2 linked regions of the Homo sapiens genome follow. Each later gene encodes a partner of the first gene's protein in a complex. Each region holds a gene or a part of one and is shown in the gene's direction. Other genes may lie near its edges. The genes, in order: GRB2 and SHC1.

What was found.
Region 2: the proteins of GRB2 (region 1) and SHC1 are in contact, whole or in part, in an NMR structure (PDB 1QG1), measured with the Homo sapiens proteins. Residues at the interface, in NP_002077.1 of Homo sapiens: Arg67, Glu71, Arg86, Ser88, Ser90, Asp94, Ser96, Gln106 (codon at 8,822), His107 (codon at 8,825), Phe108 (codon at 8,828), Lys109 (codon at 8,831), Leu120 (codon at 8,864), Trp121 (codon at 8,867); in NP_892113.4 of Homo sapiens: Asp423, Asp424, Pro425, Ser426, Tyr427, Val428, Asn429, Val430.

What each region holds. Positions count from the first base shown.
Region 1 is NC_000017.11:75,314,202-75,330,632, reverse strand, and holds the end of GRB2 (growth factor receptor-bound protein 2), read left to right. Parts: intron 1-4,612; coding exon 4,613-4,735; intron 4,736-8,805; coding exon 8,806-8,974; intron 8,975-10,079; coding exon 10,080-10,265; 3' UTR 10,266-12,557; downstream 12,558-16,431. UniProt on the Homo sapiens protein: Non-enzymatic adapter protein that plays a pivotal role in precisely regulated signaling cascades from cell surface receptors to cellular responses, including signaling transduction and gene expression.
Region 2 is NC_000001.11:154,961,662-154,967,747, reverse strand, and holds the end of SHC1 (SHC-transforming protein 1), read left to right. Parts: coding exon 1-77; intron 78-1,203; coding exon of another isoform or gene 1,204-1,230; coding exon 1,231-1,429; intron 1,430-1,516; coding exon 1,517-1,586; intron 1,587-1,667; coding exon 1,668-1,802; intron 1,803-1,966; coding exon 1,967-2,205; coding exon of another isoform or gene 2,206-2,379; exon of another isoform or gene 2,380-2,462; intron 2,463-3,816; coding exon 3,817-3,945; 3' UTR 3,946-5,450; downstream 5,451-6,086. UniProt on the Homo sapiens protein: Signaling adapter that couples activated growth factor receptors to signaling pathways. Participates in a signaling cascade initiated by activated KIT and KITLG/SCF.

The sequences.
Region 1 (16,431 bases):
GTGCTATCTCAGCTCACTGCAACCTCCGCCTGCTGGGTTCAAGCGATTCTTGTGCCTCAGCCTGCCGAGTAGCTGGGACTACAGGCGCGTGCCTCCACTCCCGTCGAATTGTTGTATTTTTAGTAGAGATGGGGTTTCACTGTGTTGGCCAAGCTGATCTCGAGCTCTTGGCCTAAAGTGCTGGGATTACAGGTGTAAGCCACCGCACCCTGCCAAAGCCCATCTTTTGTTTGTTTGTTTGTTTGTTTGTTTGAGATGGAGTCTCGCTCTGTCGCCAGGCTAGAGTGCTGTGGCGCGATCTCGGCTCACTGCAACCCCCAACTCCCTGGTTCAAGGGATTCTCCTGCCTCCACCTCCTGAGTAGCTGGGATTACAGGCATGTGCCACCATGCCTGGCTAATTTTTGTATTTTTAGTAGAGATGGGGTTTCACTGTGTTGGTCAGGATGGTCTCAATCTCCTGACCTCCTGATCCGCCCGCCTCGGCCTCCCAAAGTGCTGGGATTACAGGTGTGAGCCACCACACCCGGCCCAAAGCCCATCTTTTTAAAGACTTTCAAAACATTTGCCTGTTAGAGCTTGCAGCAAGCCAAGATCACGCCACTGCACTCCAGCCTATTCAACAAAGCAAGACTCTGTCTCAAAAAATAAAAAATAAAAAAAATTCACCCGTAAGCATGTAGTCACATGTACATATCATCATTTTAAAAAGTCAAATTTATAAATGATATAAAATGCTATAGAAATGTAGAATGGTGGTATTTCAGTGTTTTAGTAGTGACAGCTATTCACAGGGTCTTGCTCTGTCATCCAGGTTGGGCTCAAGTTATCCTCCCACCTTAGTCTCCTAAGTTGCTGCGTCTACAGCTGTGCACCACTATGCCTGGCTAATTTTTTATTTTTCGTAGAGACAGGGTCTCACTGTGTTGCCCGGGCTGGTCTTGATCTACTGGGCTTAAGCAATCCTCCCACCTTAGCCTCCCAAAGTGCTGGAATTAACAGGCGTGAGCAACTGCACCTGGTGCCAGATTTTTTATTTCTTGATCTGGGTGCTTATAACAGAGTTGTGGTTTTTTTGGTTTTTGGTTTTAATTCCAGTTAGAGTACTTTTTAAACATTATAATTTGTACTTCACTACAATTTATTTTTTTTAATTGAAAATAAAATTGCGTTAATTTTAAGCTGGGGGCAAGAAAACACAGCAGCCATGTCTATGTGACACCAGACAGAAAGGTCTGGAAACCTAAGTGTTAGAACCGCCAACACGTGCTGCCTCTGGGGAGTTTGAGGGAAGCATCTTACTTTTTATGTTTGCTTCATGTACATCTAGGCTATTTCAGTTTATATTCATTATTTTATACCTACAAATGGGAAAAAACCTCCCTAGTGGAGAGATCTTGGGGGCCTAGGAGGAAAGAGAGCCTTGCTGATTGAGAATCTTCACCCTCACCATTGCTATTGGAAGTGGCAGTGGTGGGGAGTGTGGGGCAGTGTGGGGAGAGCCAGCCGAGGCCATGTGTGGATTTTCACTGCTGTACCCAGTCAGATGCATGCTGCATACACTTATATTAGAAACCCAGGGCCCCCCGATATGAGAAGGTTTAAATACCGTTGATTGGGGCCCCCCGATTGAGAAGGTCTCAATACCGTTAAGTGTCCTTATTTATTTATTTATTTATTTATTTATTTATTTTTTGAAAGCGAGTCTCGCTTTGTCGCCCAGGCTAGAGTGCAGTGGCGCGATCTCGGCTCACTGCAAGCTCCGCCTCCCAGGTTCACTCCATTCTCCTGCCTCAGCCTCCTGAGTAACTGGGACTACAGGCACCTGCCACCACGCCTGGCTAATTTTTTGTATTTTTAGTAAAGACAGGGTTTCACCGTGTTAGCCAGGTTGGTCTCGATCTCCTGACTTTGTGACCCGCCCGCCTCGGCCTCCCAAAGTGCTGGGATTACAGGCGTGAGCCACCACACCCGGCCTATTTAATTTTTTTGAGATGGAGTTTCACTCTTGTTGCCCAGGCTGGAGTGCAATGGCACGATCTCGGCTCACCGCAACCTCTGCCTCCCGGAGATTCAAGCGATTCTCCTGCCTCAGCCTCCCGAGTAGCTGGGATTACAGGCATGCGCCACCGCGCCTTGCTAATTTTGTATTTTTAGTAGAGATGGAGTTTCTCCATGTTGGCCAGGCTGGTCTCGAACTCCTGACCTCAGATGATCCGCCCACCTCGGCCTCCCAAAGTGCTGCGATTACAGGCATTGAGCCACCGCACCCAGCCTCCTTTTTTATTTTATTTATTTATATATTTTTTTGAGACAGAGTCTCACTCTTTCGCCCAGGCTGGAGTGCGGTGGCACAGTCTCGGCTCACTACAACCTCTGCCTCCCAGGTTCAAGTGATTCTCCTGCCTCAGCCTCCCGAGTAGCTGGGATTACAGGTGCCCACCACTGTGCCCATCTAATTTTTGTATTTTTGGTAGAGAGTGGGTTTCACCACGTTGGCCAGGCTGGTCTCAAACTCCTGACCTCAAGTGATTCACCCCACCTCAGCCTCCCAAAGTGCTGCAATTACAGGCATGAGGTACCGGGCCCAGCCTGTCCTTTTATATTTAGAGAGCATTCTATTCTAGTGATATGTGATTTCTCTTGTGTGGCCTGATTTCCAGGCACTGCAGGCCCTAGCCTTGAGTTATTTGTAGAAGCAGGAGGATCTATTGTCCCAGCTCCTCAGCATCCTGGCAGTAGAGTATGCAAAATGAGAAAGACTCCAAGCAGGTAGATGTCAGACTATTCAGAGTTACTAAGAGTCCCTAGAGGCTGACACACACACACAAGGACAAAGTTACTAAGGGCAGCTTCTAAGTGTATCCTTCCTAGCAGATCACATCTTTCTGTTTGAATTTGAGTATAGTATATTATTTTAGGTACATCTTCCAATATGGTTGCTTATAAGTAAGATATGTAAATTAGCCGGGCGTGGTGGCTCGCGACTTTAATCCCAGCACTTTGGGAGGCTGAGGCGGGCAGATCTCGAGGTCGGGAGTTCAAGACCAGCCTGGCCAATATGGTGAAACCCCGTCTCTATTAAAAATACAAAAATTAGCTGGGCGTGGTGGTGGCCGCCTGTAATCCCAGCTACTAGGGAAGCTGAGGCAGGAGAATTGCTTGAACCCAGGAGGCGAAGGTTGCAGTGAGCCGAGATCGTGCCACTGCACTCCAGCCTTGATGACAGAGTGAGACTCTATCTAAAAAAAAAAGGGCCGGGCGTAGTGGCTCATGCCTGTAATCCCAGCACTTTGGGAGGCCAAGGCAGGCGGATCAACAAGGTCAGGAGATCGAGACCATCCTGGCTAACACGGTGAAACCCCATCTTTACTAAAAATACAAAATATTAGCCGGGCATGGTGGCGGGCGCCTATGTATAGTCCCAGCTGCTCAGCTACTTGGGAGGCTGAGGCAGGAGAATGGCGTGAACCCGGGAGGCAGAGCTTGCAGTGAGCGAGATCGTGCCACTGCACTCCAGCCTGGGTGACAGAGCTAGACTCCTCAAAAAAAAAAAAAAAGAAAAGATATGTAAGTTAGATTTACAACTTTAATGGACTATTTGGTCCATTAAAAGGACTTTTGATATTATAATTAGCATATTAAATGAATGCCAGTTTCCATGTTTATAGGTCTTTATTTGCTATAACTTTTGCTTTTAAAAATGATAACTAAAGACAATTTTGAGAAGAGAACATGGTTTTCACAGTTTCTTCTTCCTAATTATAGTTTTCATTTGAAATAGTGAGGCAGCTTGACTTGAAGCTCTTGTAGAAGTGTTCCTCTCCTCTTCCTCTTGATAAGCCACAGCCAGTTGCTTCACAGTTTTTCATGAATTTAGCCACTTTTTCTTCTGGCCAAGGTGAATCAGCAATTGGGAGCAGAAGAGTCTGCAACTTGCCTCAAAAATCTGAATTTTGCAGCTAGCTGCTGAGCATATGGTAAATTACAATATTCCTGGTGGCTTCTGAAAGCTGAACTCTGAGCAGTGGCCCCAGAGGCAGGCCTTGAGAGGAATGCTGACCTTAGTTACTGGTAGAGGCACCCTCATACTATCTGAACCTTTTGCCTTTGGGCTGTTAGCAAAAGTAACCCTGCCTCCAGCTCCTGGCCGTCCAGGTTTCCTCCCCACTTTCCCTTAGTCCCACTGTGGTGAAGCTGTGATCTTATCACATGGCTGCAGGAAGGGGCCAGTCTCTCCTTGGCAGTTCATCCCGTACACCAAGCCCAAAGGCCTGAGCTTTTCCCCAGGCGCCTTTGTCATGAGTCAGTAGGGAGTCCAGTGGGCTTTGGCCTGGGGGGCCCATTTTCAAATGTCTCCCTCTATAGAAAGAGTGACCCACGGTTAGTGCCTTGGTGAGTCGCTTTCTGGGAAATGGAGTAGGCTAAAGACCTTTGAAGGTCCATCTCTGGGGACCCAACCCAGTGTCGATCTTGGGCACTGTGAGGCTGGAGGATGAGGAGGGAGGCCCCTTCCTCTGGCAAGGAGTGTTGTGTTACTCACATTTTGAAGGCTGGATATCCCGTTTCTTTGTGGGGAAGCAGATGTTGACCAGCTTGCCTTCCTTCCTTAGGTGGTTTTTTGGCAAAATCCCCAGAGCCAAGGCAGAAGAAATGCTTAGCAAACAGCGGCACGATGGGGCCTTTCTTATCCGAGAGAGTGAGAGCGCTCCTGGGGACTTCTCCCTCTCTGTCAAGTAAGTATTTCCTGCTGCAGTTGCCTGGAATCCTGTCTCTGACTGATCCAAATTGTGAAGCCGTTGGTCAGGTGCCTGGCTACACACAAAATGGTGGAGGCTTAGCCTAAACAGTTTCTTCATTTCACATTAAAATCCTAATTTCTGGCTCCTCTCAAAATGAGTTCTAGAAGCACTGGATGTAGATTCCCATGTGGACACAGCCTTCAGGAGGTGAGCAGCAGCTCCCTGCAGCCAGCTGGAGCCTGCCAGTTTTCCCTAGTGCCCAGCACTCCTGAGCTTCTGCCCTCCAAGGGATTCCCGCAGCTCTCTCTAATGGGATAGTGGAGCGCCTGTCGGCTGCCTTGGCTTGCCTTGCTCAGGTCCACTGACTTAAATCAACCAGCCCCATCCTAGGCCCTCACAGTCACTTAAGAAGGCTGCTGCAGGGGATGTGGGGCTTGCATTTCCCCGGTGGAAAGTTCAGGTGTGAAAGGGAGCGGGTAAGCAGGGAATGGAGAAGACAGGAAGTTCTGCCGCCATGGAGAGTGTGGAGAATAGAAACCAGCACTTGAAGATTCTAAACAATTCACACCTCAGCTGTGAAGTCGGGATTTTGAATTAAATTGTTATTTCCATGTTTTTTACTTTCAGTTATTTTCTAGTTAATGTATTATCATAGGACCCTCCCCAGGAGTCCGGCAGATCACTTCATCAGTTATATATAAAGAAGTAATTAGATTCAACACTCAGATCACTACTTAGTTTAGATTACATTAAGATTGTTTTGTTTTTGAATGGGGGATAGAAAACCATTTTCCTTTTATTTTATTTACTTATTTTTGAGACAGAGTCTCGCTCTGTCCCCCAGGCTGGAGTCCAATGGCATGCCTCAGCTCACTGCAACCTCCACCTCCCAGGTTCAAGCAGTTCTCCCTGCCCCACCCTCCGAGTACCTGGGATTACAGGTGCCTGACACCACGCCCGGCTTATTTTTGTATTTTTAGTAGAGATGGGGTTTTGCCATATTGGCCAGGCTGGTCTTGAACTCCTGACCTCAGGTGATCCACCCACCTCGACCTCCCAAAGTGCTGGGATTACAGGCTGGAGCCACTGCTTCCAGCCACCATTTCCCATTTATAACTGATGTAAAGCGTGAGACTTTTCCATTTCAAAAATGAACTGACCAGCCTGGCCAACATGGTGAAACCCTGTTTCTGCTAAAAATAGAAAATAACCCAGGCATAGTGGCACACACCTGTAGTCCCAGCTACTTGGGAGGCTGAGGCCAGAGAATCATTTGAATCCAGGAGGCGGAGGTTGTAGTGAGGCGAGATGGCGCCATTGCACTTTAGCCTGGGCGAAGAGCAAAACTCTGTCTCCAAAAAAAAAAAAAAAAAAAAAAAAAAAACTGGGTGCGGTGGCTCACACCTGTAATCCCAGCACTTTGGGAGGCCGAGGCAGGCAGATCACCTGAGGTCAGAAGTTCGAGACCAGCCTGGCGAACATGGTAAAACCCTGTCTCTACTAAAAAAAAAAAAAAAAAAAAAAATACAAAAATGGCCTCGGCGTGGTGGCGTGTGCCTGTAATCCCAGCTACTCAGGAGGCTGAGAGAGAAGAATCACTTGAACCCGAGAGGCAGATGAGCCAAGATCGTGCCACTACACTCCAGCCTGAGTGACAGAGTAAGACTGTGTCTCCCAAAACAAACAAACAAACTGAATATCTTATTTGGTTTTAGAACCACTTAATGTGTGATTAAAATGTAGATTTTTTTTTTGAAACGTAGATTTTAAATTTATAGTTGTGGCCCGGCATGGTGGCTCATGCCTGTAATCCCAGCCCTTTAGGAGGCTGAGGCGGGCCGATCATGAGGTCAGGAGTTTGAGACCAGCCTGACCAATATGGTGAAACACTGTCCCTACTAAAAAAATACAAAAATTAGCCAGGCGTGGTGGCACATGCCTGTATTCCCAGCTACTCCGGAGGCTGAAGCAGGAGAATCACTTGAACCTAGGAGGCAGAGGTTGCAGTGAGCCGAGACTGAGCCATTGCATTCCAGCCTGGGTGAAAGAGCAAGACTCCATCCATCTTTAAAAAAAAAAAAAAAAGAAAAGAAAAACATGTGTGACACCTGTCTTTCTTTAGTTTTATACTGACCCAAGTGTAACTGAAACCTTATAAGATGAGGGGAACAAGCAGTAAATCACTGGGTGGTGGCCAAAACCACGGGGGCAGCCACGTGCTCGGCTGGACGCTGCCTGTTTGCTCAGCAGAAACTCTCAAACTTCCATTTTCTCAAGTAGAATCTTTTAAGGATTTAATGCATTTATTGTTTTAGAAGCAAAGCAGGTGTCATGACTCTCTTTAACAACACACACACCTCTGCAAAAAAGGTTCAAGAATCAACAGTTGTCAGATGTTTCTTAGTTTTAGGATGTTTTGAGCCTGTGATTTGAAACACTGCTCATTATTGGGGCCCTGGGCTCTTAGAAACCACCTGCATTGCATGGGTGGAAGTGGGCCTCTGTGGGGCCAGAAGTGCCGTGGAATATACCCTTGCTAATGAAGCTTTCTCACCTTCCACATTTTGTCTTAACATGTAAAGCAGTATTTTTTCCAAATGCGAGGCATCTTGTGCTGAGTGGCTTCCTTGAGGCTCAGTGCTGCCACCTGCCGGATTGATTTTCTGAAGCCTTTGGTTTCCATCAGCTGAAAGACTGAAGGAGAGGAGGGACTCATTCATTCATTGAACAAGCACTCTCAGAGAATGCCTTTTTTTTTTTTTTTTTTTTTAATGAGATGGAGTGTCACTCTGTCGCACAGGCTGGAGTACAGTGGCCCAATCTCGGCTCACTGCAAGCTCCTCCTCCCGGGTTCACACCATTCTCCTGCCTCAGCCTCCCGAGTAGCTGTGACTACAGGCATCTGCCACCACACCTGGCTAATTTTTTGTATTTTTAGTAGAGACGGGGTTTCACTGTGTTAGCCATGGTGGTCTCGATATCCTGACCTTATGATCCGCCCACCTCGGCCTCCCAAAGTGCTGGGATTACAGGCATGAGCCACCGCATCCGGCCGAGAATGCCGAGAGTGCCCGGCCAGGTGAACAGGACAGGCAGAAGCGCCCTCGCTAGGCTGGTGTTTTAGCCAAATATCCTGTGACAGACCCTGTGAGCTAGTACCAGCCAGCCACGCTGTTGCCGGTTTTGCTTGCCAGTATAAAAGGGTGTGATCTAGTGATGGAGAAGCTTTTGGGTTTTGAAGTCTGGGCCTCTTTTATTGTCCCAGTACGTCCTTTTGTTCAGAGACCTTTTCCCCATGAGTGGAGCTAAAATTCCTGAATGGAAAACATTACTTTGAACTATTCCCAGTTACGAGAGAATTGTTGAAAGTATTTCCAGCCCTCCTCACCTTCTTCCTGCATATAAGATTTTAATTATTTTTTTATTCAAAGGATGTTAAGTCACACTCCTTTGTCTTAAGTACGGCTGTTTTTATTTGGTAGGGTTCAGGGCACATGGACTCTTTTTTTTTTTTTTTTTGAGACAGAGTTTCACTCTTGTTACCCAGGTTGGAGTGCAATGGCGCGATCTCAGCTCACCACAACCTCGGCCTCCCAGGTTCAAGTGATTCTCCTGCCTCAGCCTCCCGAGTAGCTGGGATTACAGGCATGCACCATCATGCCCAGCTACTTTTGTATTTTTAGTAGAGATGGGATTTCTCCATGTTGGCCAGGCTGGTCTCGAACTCCCGACCTCAGGTGATCTGCCCACCACGGCCTCCAAAGTGTTGGGATTACAGGTGTGAGCCACCGCACCCGGCCTGGACTCTTTATCTTACAAACATCTTCAGAATGAGAATGACTGATGGCCTGTCCCTCTCTGGTTTCTGGATGTTGTCCTGGTGCCCATCATTCATAGGGAGAGGTCCGTCCCAGGGACACCCAGTGAGGAAACTTGTTGCTCTGCAGTCCCTGAGGAGTGCTGCTGGGACAGTGGTTCTCTCGAGATAGCTCCTATATGGAAATACCCTCGATTTGCCAAGTTAGAGCCTTTAGCCGGTCACATGTGCTTTCTGTCCCTCCCAGGTTTGGAAACGATGTGCAGCACTTCAAGGTGCTCCGAGATGGAGCCGGGAAGTACTTCCTCTGGGTGGTGAAGTTCAATTCTTTGAATGAGCTGGTGGATTATCACAGATCTACATCTGTCTCCAGAAACCAGCAGATATTCCTGCGGGACATAGAACAGGTGCCACAGGTAAGCCTCATCAGGGTGAGATGGGATCATTTTTAGTTAAGAATAGCTCCTCAGTGTGCATTCCTGTAGGAAAGGGGAGGCGCCCCTCAACATGCGGGCGCCCTTCAGGGATTGCCGCTGGGGCTTCTGTGCTCCTTACTGAAAATGTTACCCTCCATTCACACTAAAGAGTTCTTTTTTCTGGCCCAGCATAGTAGCTCACACCTATAATCCCAGCACTTTGGGAGGCCGAGGCAGGCAGATCTCTTGAGGTCAGGTGTTTGAGACTAGCCTGGCCAACATGGTGAAACCCTGTCGCTACTAAAAATACAAAAATTAGCTGGATGTGGTGGCGCACACCTGCAGTCCCAGCTACTCGGGAAGCTGAGATGGAAAAATTGCTTGAACCCAGGAGGTGGAGATTGTAGTGAGCTGAGATTGCACCACTGCACTCCAACCTGGGCGACAGAGGGAGACTTCATTTCAAAAAAAAAAAAAAAAAAAAAAAAAGATTTGTTGTTTCAAATACAAGGTTTTTGCTTTTCCAGAGGCAGTGTGTAGCCAGCTTGCCAGCCTCTCTAGGGAGATGGTCTTTAACACACCCACCCAAAGATCCTGTCCCTGGAAGCAAATTATGAGGAAAACTATGCTTGTGAGGGAATGGGGTCGGCACCCGTTCCTGTCCCTCGAGCCCTGGTCGTAAGTTACGGTTAGAGCCCCTTATGTTATTCGAGCTCCAGAACTTTAGGCTTTAATACCTTAAGGGTGTCGTAGAAGGGATTTGCGATTCTGGGCCCACGGCCTAAACACAGATGGCTGTTTCTGAAGAACTTTCTCCTCCAAGCACTGCCTGCCCTCTACTTGATAATACGGCACAGTTGGCCACCCTCCTCTGGGAGACATACTCTAATATTTTCTGAGCACTGGGAAATATCACACTAAACCCGCTTGGCCTGTAAACTTAGAATAGGTAAGAATAAACGGGGGGTTGGGAGATGGGAGGTGAGTTTAAGAAACATGGAGAATTTGGCACGCATTCGTTTCCCCCTGGAACCCATCTGGCCTCGGAGGTGGCCAGTCACAGACCAGGAATGCAATGTGGGTTTTTCCTGCTCCTGTTTTGCAGCAGCCGACATACGTCCAGGCCCTCTTTGACTTTGATCCCCAGGAGGATGGAGAGCTGGGCTTCCGCCGGGGAGATTTTATCCATGTCATGGATAACTCAGACCCCAACTGGTGGAAAGGAGCTTGCCACGGGCAGACCGGCATGTTTCCCCGCAATTATGTCACCCCCGTGAACCGGAACGTCTAAGAGTCAAGAAGCAATTATTTAAAGAAAGTGAAAAATGTAAAACACATACAAAAGAATTAAACCCACAAGCTGCCTCTGACAGCAGCCTGTGAGGGAGTGCAGAACACCTGGCCGGGTCACCCTGTGACCCTCTCACTTTGGTTGGAACTTTAGGGGGTGGGAGGGGGCGTTGGATTTAAAAATGCCAAAACTTACCTATAAATTAAGAAGAGTTTTTATTACAAATTTTCACTGCTGCTCCTCTTTCCCCTCCTTTGTCTTTTTTTTCATCCTTTTTTCTCTTCTGTCCATCAGTGCATGACGTTTAAGGCCACGTATAGTCCTAGCTGACGCCAATAATAAAAAACAAGAAACCAAGTGGGCTGGTATTCTCTCTATGCAAAATGTCTGTTTTAGTTGGAATGACTGAAAGAAGAACAGCTGTTCCTGTGTTCTTCGTATATACACACAAAAAGGAGCGGGCAGGGCCGCTCGATGCCTTTGCTGTTTAGCTTCCTCCAGAGGAGGGGACTTGTAGGAATCTGCCTTCCAGCCCAGACCCCCAGTGTATTTTGTCCAAGTTCACAGTAGAGTAGGGTAGAAGGAAAGCATGTCTCTGCTTCCATGGCTTCCTGAGAAAGCCCACCTGGGCTGGGCGCGGTGGCTCACGCCTGTAATCCCAGCACTTTGGGAGGCCAAGGTGGGCGGATCACAAGGTCAGGAGTTCGAGACCAACCTAGCCAACATGGTGAAACCCCGTCTCTACTAAAAATAAGAAATTAGCCGGGTGTGGCACGCACCTGTAGTCCCAGCTACTTGGGAGCCTGAGGCAGGAGAATCGCTTGAACCTGGGAAGTGGAGGTTGAGTGAGCCGGGACCGTGCCATTGTACTCCAGCCTGGGTGACAGAGCGAGATTCCGTCTCAAAAAAAAAAAAAAAAAGCCCACCTGAAAGCCTGTCTCTTTCCACTTTGTTGGCCCTTCCAGTGGGATTATCGAGCATGTTGTTTTTTCATAGTGCCTTTTTCCTTATTTCAAGGGTTGCTTCTGAGTGGTGTTTTTTTTTTTTTTTTAATTTGTTTTGTTTTAAAATAAGTTAAAGGCAGTCCAGAGCTTTTCAGCCAATTTGTCTCCTACTCTGTGTAAATATTTTTCCCTCCGGGCAGGGGAGCCAGGGTAGAGCAAAGGAGACAAAGCAGGAGTGGAAGGTGAGGCGTTCTCCTGCTTGTACTAAGCCAGGAGGCTTTAAGCTCCAGCTTTAAGGGTTGTGAGCCCCTTGGGGGTTCAGGGAACTGCTTGCCCAGGGTGCAGTGTGAGTGTGATGGGCCACCGGGGCAAGAGGGAAGGTGACCGCCCAGCTCTCCCACATCCCACTGGATCTGGCTTACAGGGGGGTCGGAAGCCTGTCCTCACCGTCTCGGGGGTTGTGGCCCCCGCCCCCTCCCTATATGCACCCCTGGAACCAGCAAGTCCCAGACAAGGAGAGCGGAGGAGGAAGTCATGGGAACGCAGCCTCCAGTTGTAGCAGGTTTCACTATTCCTATGCTGGGGTACACAGTGAGAGTACTCACTTTTCACTTGTCTTGCTCTTAGATTGGGCCATGGCTTTCATCCTGTGTCCCCTGACCTGTCCAGGTGAGTGTGAGGGCAGCACTGGGAAGCTGGAGTGCTGCTTGTGCCTCCCTTCCCAGTGGGCTGTGTTGACTGCTGCTCCCCACCCCTACCGATGGTCCCAGGAAGCAGGGAGAGTTGGGGAAGGCAAGATTGGAAAGACAGGAAGACCAAGGCCTCGGCAGAACTCTCTGTCTTCTCTCCACTTCTGGTCCCCTGTGGTGATGTGCCTGTAATCTTTTTCTCCACCCAAACCCCTTCCCACGACAAAAACAAGACTGCCTCCCTCTCTTCCGGGAGCTGGTGACAGCCTTGGGCCTTTCAGTCCCAAAGCGGCCGATGGGAGTCTCCCTCCGACTCCAGATATGAACAGGGCCCAGGCCTGGAGCGTTTGCTGTGCCAGGAGGCGGCAGCTCTTCTGGGCAGAGCCTGTCCCCGCCTTCCCTCACTCTTCCTCATCCTGCTTCTCTTTTCCTCGCAGATGATAAAAGGAATCTGGCATTCTACACCTGGACCATTTGATTGTTTTATTTTGGAATTGGTGTATATCATGAAGCCTTGCTGAACTAAGTTTTGTGTGTATATATTTAAAAAAAAAATCAGTGTTTAAATAAAGACCTATGTACTTAATCCTTTAACTCTGCGGATAGCATTTGGTAGGTAGTGATTAACTGTGAATAATAAATACACAATGAATTCTTCACTTGGTATCTTTTTTTCCCCTTGCCTGCCTTAAAAATTTAAAAACCGCATCGGGGAGTCAGGAATCTTGGGTCCTTATTTCAGACGTGATCACCCAGCTTACATCCCCCTAGGGGAGCATGTGGGGCTCACAGGCCTTCCTGGGAGCGATGCCTGCAGTTGGCTGTCAGGAACTCCTGGGGAGCCTGTTAACAATACAGAATCGCAAACCCCGCCCCACATCCTCGGACATTGCCTTTGAGGACACAGACACGCCCGCTGTTTCTGATGTAGAGAAACCACTGACCACGCTTTGGGAACTCTGGTCTAGACCAAGGGCTTTGGGAAGATAAAGAGCTTGGCTTATTTGGTTCTCCTGTTTTCTGTGTTAAACAAGAAGAAGGACAGAAACACCTGTGAAGAAACGGTTTTAATATGCTGAGTAACTGAAATATACTTGTTTGCTCAATAGGCTGCTTTTAGGGTGAGACTAGGCATATTTACACACACGTTGGCTACAGAGGCAAAGAAGACTGAACAAAAAAGAAATGAGGTCTGGCCATGGTAGCTCATGCCTGTAATCCCAGCACTTTGAGAGGCCAAGGTGGGGGATCACTTGAGCCCAGGAGTTTTGAGGCCAGTCTGGGCAGCATAGGGAGACTCCCTGCCTCTCTACAAAAAGCAAATTAGCCAGATGCAGTGGCGCACGCCTGTAGTGAGGATTACTTGGGAGGCTGAGGTGGATCACTTGAGCCCAGGAGGTCAAGACTACAGTGAGCTGTGGTTGCACCACTGCACTCCAGCCTGGGCAACAGGGTGAGACCTTGTCTCGAAAAAGTAATAAAAAGGGGACAGGCAGGGTGGCTCACACCTGTAATCCCAGCACTTTGGGAGACTGAAGCGGGTGAATCACAAGGTCAGGAGTTCAAGACCAGCCTGGCCAACATGGTGAAACCCCATCTCTACTAAAAATACAAAAATTAGCCAGCTGTGGTGGCAGGTGTCTGTAGTCCCAGCTACTCGGGAGGCTGAGGCAGGAGAATCGCTTGAACCCGGGAGGTGGAGGTTACAGTGAGCCGAGATTGCACCACTGCACTCCAGCCTGGGTGACAGAGCTAGGTTCCCTCTCAAAAAAATAAAATAAAATAAAAAATAAAGGTAATAAGGGCCAGGCTCAGTGGCTTACGCCTGTAATCCTAACACTTTGAGAGGCTGAGGCGGGTGGATTGCTTGAGCTCAAGAATGCCACACCAGCCTGGGCAACATAGTGAAACCCATCTCTACCAAAAATTAGCTGAGTGTGGTGATGCACACCTGTGGTCCCAGCTACTCAGGAGGCTGAAGTGGAGGTTGCAGTGAGCTGTCATGCCACTATACTCCAGCCTGAGAGACAGACCTCTCTCAAAAAAAAAAAAAAAATACCCAAGAAATCTCGACTTGAATTCTTCTTGGTGTAGCCACACTGAGCAGGGGAGGCTTGTGGGTTGTTTTGTTTTGTGACAGGGTCTTTATCTGCCACCCAGGCTGGAGTGCTACGGTGCAATCATAGCTCACTGCAGACTCAATCCCCTGGGCTCAAGTGATCACCTCAGCCTCCCAAGTAGCTGGGACTGTAGGCATACACTACTGCACCCAAGTAGCTGGGACTACAGGCATACGCTACTGCACCCAAGTAGCTGGGACTACAGGCATACGCTACTGCACCTGGCTAATTTCATTTTTTTTTGTACAGTGGGGTCTGTGTTTCCCAGGCTGGTCTCAGACTCCTGGGCTCAAGAGATCCCCCCACCCTTGGCCTTTCAAAGTGCTGGAAATCCAGGCGTGAGCTGTGCCTGGCCTGGGACGTTTTTGACCTTCCCCTGCAGCAGTCATGTGTGGGAAGGATCTTGACCCAGCAAGAGTCAAGACTGCTAGTCCTGTGGTCCACTTGGGCTGGCCTCCTTGAAGCTGAGCAGAAGTTTACAAAATGGAGCTATGTAATTGAAAAGGCCGGGCGTGGTGACTCATTTAGCCTCATTTGAGGCTTTTTGCTCAATTTGTCCCCTCCCTCGCGTTTGACTGACTGTTTCAGAATTAATGGGAAAATCACTCCTTTTCTGTGATCAGCAGTTTGGTCACAGATTTCTTAGTGATGGTATCTCCCTCCTCAGGGATCCGGGATTCCTGGGAAGACATCTGGGCGGGGTGCCTTGGGAAGCCTCCCAGCATCTTACAGGAGCCCTGTGGCCGGCGTGCAGCCGGGAGTCGCTCAGTGTGTCAGGGGAAAAGCTGGAGGTAGGCGCATGGCCTCGCTCTTCAGGGCACGCCCCCCCCACCCCTCCCTGACACGCTTCCCTCCACCCAGTGAGCTGGGAGCCCCTGACAGGCTCACCTTCAGACTTGAGTGTGGAGGAGATGGTGACCCACAGCGCGGGGCTGCTTAGGTGGCCTCTGAGCCAAAGGCCATGATGGCGCAGGCTGCCTGCCTTCCCTGGGCACTAGTTCCACCTGACTGTTCATGGGGTGGGTGACCTTCAGCCCAAAACGTTCGCTTTATGGAAGTTCCTGGATAACTGGAAAAAATGACAGTGGACCTGTTTTATGCGTCTTGGAAATACTTTTTTTTTCTTTTTTTTTTTTTTGAGACAGAGTCTCCGTCTGTCCCCTAGGCTGGAATGCAGTGGCACGATCTTGGCTCACTGCAACCTCCACCTCCCGGGTTCAAGTGATTCTCCTGCCTCACCCTCCTAAGTAGCTGGGATAACCAGCTCCTGCCACCACGCCCAGCTAATTTTTGTACCTGGGGTCAGGAGTTCAAGACCAGCCTGGCCAACGTGGTGAAACCCTGTCTCTACTAAAAATACAAAAATTAGGTGGGCGTGGTGGCGGGCACCTGTAATCACAGCTACTCGGCAGGCTGAGTCAGGAGAATCGCTTGAACCCGGGAGGCAGAGGTTGCAGTGAGCCGAGATCGCGCCATCACACTCCAGCCTGGGCGACAGAGTGAGACTCCGTCTCAAAAAAAAAAGAGTACAATTCTGTGTGCCAACAGCACTGATAGATCAATATTACATGTTAGTGATATTGATTAAGCCACTTACTGCTTAGTGCATTCCAAACACTACTTTTAAAACTAACACTAAAAGCCATACTATACCCCGTCCAAAAAAGAAATCACTAAGACGTATTTTAAGTCTCAACTCTGGCCCACCCAAGAGCAACACTGGTCTTAGGTCTCCAAGGACAGCCTTCTTTTTTTCTTTTTTCTTTTTTTTTTTTCAGTTGGAGTCTGGCTCTGTTGCTGGAGTACAGTGGCGCCATCTCAGCTCATTGCAACCTCCGCTTCCTGGGTGCAAGCGATTCTGCTGCCTCAGCTTCCCGAATAGCTCGGACTACAGGCGCCCGCCACCACACCCAGCTAATTTTTGTATTTTTAGTAGAGATGGGGTTTCACCATGTTGGCCACGATGGTCTTGATCTCCTGACCTCGTGATCTGCCCACCTTGGCCTCTAAAGTGCTGGGATTACAGGCGTGAGCCACCAGGCCCTGCCCCAGCCTTTTTTTTTTTTAACATTCCTGGATTCGGGTTGAGAAAGCACAGCTATTGCAGCCATTCTCTGAGTGTGAGTCGTGGCGTCAGCAGTGTTGGCCTCCAAAATAGCAGCTGCCAGGTCCTGAGGGCTCGCCTCGTGCTGCAGGCCTGTGCAAGGGCCCGAGCCTGGGGTGAAAGGGTGGATGTTTGCCTCCTGCTGTAACCCCACCCCTCATCCTGCGCTGTGCTAGGGAAGCAAGGGGCGAGGGTGTACCCTTTTTCATTTACTCTGTTACACATGTGTTGCCCACACCTGTAGGGATTGATGGTGAACGTCATTCCTGGGGCGTGTGGAATTGGAGGCAATTATCTCCCCTCTAACTG
Region 2 (6,086 bases), on another chromosome or scaffold:
ACCATTGGCCAGGCCTTCGAGTTGCGCTTCAAACAATACCTCAGGAACCCACCCAAACTGGTCACCCCTCATGACAGGTGAGCAGGTGGGGAGAGTGTGGAGCAGCTCTTGGATTAGGATTAGGAAAGGAGGGCTGCTCTTCCTACACTTGAGTTGAGAGGTTCAGGGAGGGAATAACCTGTGTGCCTCTGCTTCCCACTTCCTGCTATTCTTCTGTTTCCTGTGGCCCAGGAGGAAAGACTTTTGAGGCCCTGCTTGCCGCAGGACCAGCTTTTCTTGTTTGCTCATGGTGGAGTTGTAGTCCGGGGCCTCCAAGTTACATCTCTCTCTGGCTAGGTGGGATTTTCTACTCCCATCCCTCTTTCTTGCTCATTTCTCTGCTTGGCATTATGTGTTTTCCTGCCTCTAGAAGCCATCAAGAATTTGGGTTTGGGAGGATATCTCTTTTCCCTGAGATTACAACCTTTCCCACCTCAGGCCTTGAGGGATAAGCAGTGGAGCCAGTAGGGATTGAATATTTAGGAGAGGTTAAAATATTCTGGAGCTGGAGTGCCTCCCCCGGCCCCCCACCCCCCTACATGGTGCTTCCCTTCCTTGTTGGGAGATAGCACAGAGATCAAGAGCAAGAGCATTACTTATTTGAGACAGTCTTGCTCTGTAGCCCAGGCTGGAGTTCAGTGGTACAATCACAGCTCACTGTAGCCTCCATATCCTGGGCTTGAGTGATCCTCCCACCTTAGCCTCCTGAGTAGCTGGGGCTACAGGTGCATGCCACCACACCTGGCTGAGTAGTAGTATTTTTATTCTGGTAGAGATAAGGTCTCGCTATGTTGTCCTGGCTGGTCTTGAACTCCTAGGCTCAAACAACCCTCCCTCCTTGGCCTCTGAAAGTGTTGGGATTATAGGCGTGAGCCATTGCACCTGGCCAAGGGGATGAGCTTTAAAGTCAAACCTGAATTTAAATCTGAGCTCGGCCGCCTTTTAGTTGTGAGACCTTGGGCAGATCTTTTCACCTCTGACCCTCATTTTCCTCATCTGTAAAAGTGGGGAAGGAAACAATACCTACCTTACGGGGTTGCCAGGAGAATGAAATGATTATGTATATAAAACACTCAGCCTCAGGCTTAATCCATAGTAAATACCCAATAGATGGCTGCTGTTCTATTCTGTCCTTCCCTCCTCCTGCCCACCACACATTTACAGCCACAGCTTCACTGTCCTGTCCCTCAGGATGGCTGGCTTTGATGGCTCAGCATGGGATGAGGAGGAGGAAGAGCCACCTGACCATCAGTACTATAATGACTTCCCGGGGAAGGAACCCCCCTTGGGGGGGGTGGTAGACATGAGGCTTCGGGAAGGAGCCGCTCCAGGGGCTGCTCGACCCACTGCACCCAATGCCCAGACCCCCAGCCACTTGGGAGCTACATTGGTAAGTTGCTTGGATGGAGGCGGGCTGGGGCTAGGGTGGGAGTGGTTGGTTAGGGCTTCTGGTCTCACCTTATTTTTATCCCTGCAGCCTGTAGGACAGCCTGTTGGGGGAGATCCAGAAGTCCGCAAACAGATGCCACCTCCACCACCCTGTCCAGGTATGAAGGGAGCCGAGATAGGCAGAGCTGGGGAGTGTTGGAGGCAGGGCTGGGATCACTGTAGAGCCTCCCTTTCCTCAGCAGGCAGAGAGCTTTTTGATGATCCCTCCTATGTCAACGTCCAGAACCTAGACAAGGCCCGGCAAGCAGTGGGTGGTGCTGGGCCCCCCAATCCTGCTATCAATGGCAGTGCACCCCGGGACCTGTTTGACATGAGTGAGTGCTCGTCTCTCTCCTCTCTGCATCCCCACCTTTCTACTTGGTTCTGGCCCTTCTCCTGCCTATCTGCTCTTTCCTTCCTGACTTCCCTTCCCTGAAGTCTGGGTCTTGGGTGTGTGTTGTGCCTGCTACTTCCCCTCACCCTCCCTCTATACTTCCAGAGCCCTTCGAAGATGCTCTTCGCGTGCCTCCACCTCCCCAGTCGGTGTCCATGGCTGAGCAGCTCCGAGGGGAGCCCTGGTTCCATGGGAAGCTGAGCCGGCGGGAGGCTGAGGCACTGCTGCAGCTCAATGGGGACTTCCTGGTACGGGAGAGCACGACCACACCTGGCCAGTATGTGCTCACTGGCTTGCAGAGTGGGCAGCCTAAGCATTTGCTACTGGTGGACCCTGAGGGTGTGGTGAGTGTGGCAGAGGTGTGGGTGAGGGGTGGCAAAAAGGAAGGTACAGTACCCTACAGTGTATCCCTCTTCCTTCCCTCATTGCTTTGTAGACATTCCCGCTGGGCAGCTGTCTATGGGCCTCTCTTGCTCTTTAAAGTGTCTGGCATCTTCCTCCAGAGGCTCATCCCTTAGCCTGAACTATGTTCTTTATAGTCCTGGCACAGGGCCAGGCGTGGTGGCTCACACCTGTAATCCCAGCGCTTTGGGAGGCTGAGGCAGGTGAATCACCTGAGGTCAGGAGTTCGAGACCAGCCTGACCAATATGGTGAAACCCTGTCTCTACTAAAAATACAAAAATTAGCCGGGTGTGGTGGCAGGCACCTGTAGTCCCAGCTACTCAGGAGGCTGAGGCAGGAGAATTGCTTGAATCTGGGATGCAGAGGTTGCAATGAGCTGAGATCACACCACTGCACTCCAGCCTGGGTGACAGAGTGAGACTCTGTCTGAAAAAACAAAACAAAACAAATACAGTCCTGGCCCGTCCTCAAATCCCCAAGCCTTAAGCTTATCAGAGCTAGAAGGCAGTCATCTCATCTGTGCCCCTCTTTTGACAAATAAGGAAACCACCCTGAAGAGGTTGTGATGCCCAATGTCAGATGGTTAGAGGCTAGACACTGCAAGTTTCCTTTTGTAAGAAGATCCAAGGGCTTCTCCAGCTCCCCAGACTCAGGACTCAGACCACTGTGCTTTCTCTTATCTGCACTGCCTCACTGTTCTTCAAAACTTTCCTTGTTTAGCCAGGTGTGGTGGTTCATGCCTGTAATCCCAACATTTTGCGAAGCTGAGGTGGGAGGATTGCTTGAGGCCAGGAGTTCAAGACCAGCCTGGGCAACATAGCGAGACCTTGTCTCTAGTCAGGAATGGTGACACATGCCTGTAGTCCTACCTACCCAGGAGGCTGAGGCCTGAGGATCGCTTGAGCCCAGGAGTTCGAGGTTACAGTGAGCCATGATTGCGCCACTGTACTCTAGCCTGGGTGACAGAGACCCTGTCTGGAAACAAAAAAACTTTTGTTTGTTTTCTACAGTAATCTCAGCTTCCTTTCTTTTTTTTTGAGATAGGGTTTTGCTTTGTCACTCAGGCTGCGGTGTGGTGGCACACCTGGCTAATTTTTGTATTTTTTTTTTGGTAGAGATGGGGTTTCGCCATGTTGCCCAAGCTGTTCTTGAACTCCCGGGCTCAAGTGATCCGCCTCCCTCGGCCTCCCAGAGTGCTGGGATTACAGGCACGGACCACCATGCCCAGCCTCCACATCTTTTTTTGCACTGTGTATACTCTTCTGAGACATGCCAACTTCCTCCAGGTCAAGAAAGGGGTATATAGCTCTCAGCTTCACTCTTTCAGGGCTGATGTCGCCTTTGCCTTTTCTCACTTCACTGACCTGTCTATTCCTACAACTGTCTCTTTCTAGAGAAGCCTCAATGATCAGGATTGACAGGCCACACTCTCCCCCACCATTTTTTTCTCCTCCTTCAAGCCTCTTGTCTGTTTCACCCTCTTCCACCTTGGAGGCTGAGGTCTTATTTGACTCTTCACCTGAATTGACCTTCTTCCTTCCCACCCTCCCAGGTTCGGACTAAGGATCACCGCTTTGAAAGTGTCAGTCACCTTATCAGCTACCACATGGACAATCACTTGCCCATCATCTCTGCGGGCAGCGAACTGTGTCTACAGCAACCTGTGGAGCGGAAACTGTGATCTGCCCTAGCGCTCTCTTCCAGAAGATGCCCTCCAATCCTTTCCACCCTATTCCCTAACTCTCGGGACCTCGTTTGGGAGTGTTCTGTGGGCTTGGCCTTGTGTCAGAGCTGGGAGTAGCATGGACTCTGGGTTTCATATCCAGCTGAGTGAGAGGGTTTGAGTCAAAAGCCTGGGTGAGAATCCTGCCTCTCCCCAAACATTAATCACCAAAGTATTAATGTACAGAGTGGCCCCTCACCTGGGCCTTTCCTGTGCCAACCTGATGCCCCTTCCCCAAGAAGGTGAGTGCTTGTCATGGAAAATGTCCTGTGGTGACAGGCCCAGTGGAACAGTCACCCTTCTGGGCAAGGGGGAACAAATCACACCTCTGGGCTTCAGGGTATCCCAGACCCCTCTCAACACCCGCCCCCCCCATGTTTAAACTTTGTGCCTTTGACCATCTCTTAGGTCTAATGATATTTTATGCAAACAGTTCTTGGACCCCTGAATTCAATGACAGGGATGCCAACACCTTCTTGGCTTCTGGGACCTGTGTTCTTGCTGAGCACCCTCTCCGGTTTGGGTTGGGATAACAGAGGCAGGAGTGGCAGCTGTCCCCTCTCCCTGGGGATATGCAACCCTTAGAGATTGCCCCAGAGCCCCACTCCCGGCCAGGCGGGAGATGGACCCCTCCCTTGCTCAGTGCCTCCTGGCCGGGGCCCCTCACCCCAAGGGGTCTGTATATACATTTCATAAGGCCTGCCCTCCCATGTTGCATGCCTATGTACTCTACGCCAAAGTGCAGCCCTTCCTCCTGAAGCCTCTGCCCTGCCTCCCTTTCTGGGAGGGCGGGGTGGGGGTGACTGAATTTGGGCCTCTTGTACAGTTAACTCTCCCAGGTGGATTTTGTGGAGGTGAGAAAAGGGGCATTGAGACTATAAAGCAGTAGACAATCCCCACATACCATCTGTAGAGTTGGAACTGCATTCTTTTAAAGTTTTATATGCATATATTTTAGGGCTGTAGACTTACTTTCCTATTTTCTTTTCCATTGCTTATTCTTGAGCACAAAATGATAATCAATTATTACATTTATACATCACCTTTTTGACTTTTCCAAGCCCTTTTACAGCTCTTGGCATTTTCCTCGCCTAGGCCTGTGAGGTAACTGGGATCGCACCTTTTATACCAGAGACCTGAGGCAGATGAAATTTATTTCCATCTAGGACTAGAAAAACTTGGGTCTCTTACCGCGAGACTGAGAGGCAGAAGTCAGCCCGAATGCCTGTCAGTTTCATGGAGGGGAAACGCAAAACCTGCAGTTCCTGAGTACCTTCTACAGGCCCGGCCCAGCCTAGGCCCGGGGTGGCCACACCACAGCAAGCCGGCCCCCCCTCTTTTGGCCTTGTGGATAAGGGAGAGTTGACCGTTTTCATCCTGGCCTCCTTTTGCTGTTTGGATGTTTCCACGGGTCTCACTTATACCAAAGGGAAAACTCTTCATTAAAGTCCGTATTTCTTCTACCTCTGCCTCTTAACCCTTCTGGGAAGCCTATTGTGTACGCCGCGGGCCCTCAGCGGCAGACGGGGAGGCGGGAGGTCGCGGCCGCCCAGGGAAGCTGGGGGTCTGCAGAGTTTGGGTGCGGCAGAGTGGGGCGTTTCGCGCCACCGTCCCCATGGGGATGTCGTGTCCGCAGAGGGGGCTGGCTCCGGGTGGGTCGAGGCGGGAGCCGGGCCTGCCCGGCGCCCCAGCACCGGCCCCCGGGCTACCTGGGCCTCCCGGGTGCGCCTTCGGCTCGCGCGCGCCCCTCCGCGGCGGCTCCACCGCCCGGGATGGTACGGTCCGGCAGCCGGGCCGCGCGCTGCCGCCCCTCGGTGAGCTGGTGTGGGCCGCCGCTAGCGGAGACGACCCTTTCCACTCGCGTGGTGCCGTGGTAAGCCTCGTCCCTCGCCCGCCGCCTGTTTTCAGGCGTAGCGTCTCGTCCGGTCCTTGCTCCCCCTCCCCGCAGCGCTCAGTGGTGGTGGCCGCGACGAGTTCCGGTTCCGGTTGCTGCCGCCGCTGGCGGGCGGCGAGTCTGGAGAGAGCGCGCAGTTTGCGCGGCGGCTCGGCGCTTCCCTGTCGTCGCACTTTGTGGTTGCTGCAGCTCGGGGGCCTGGGCT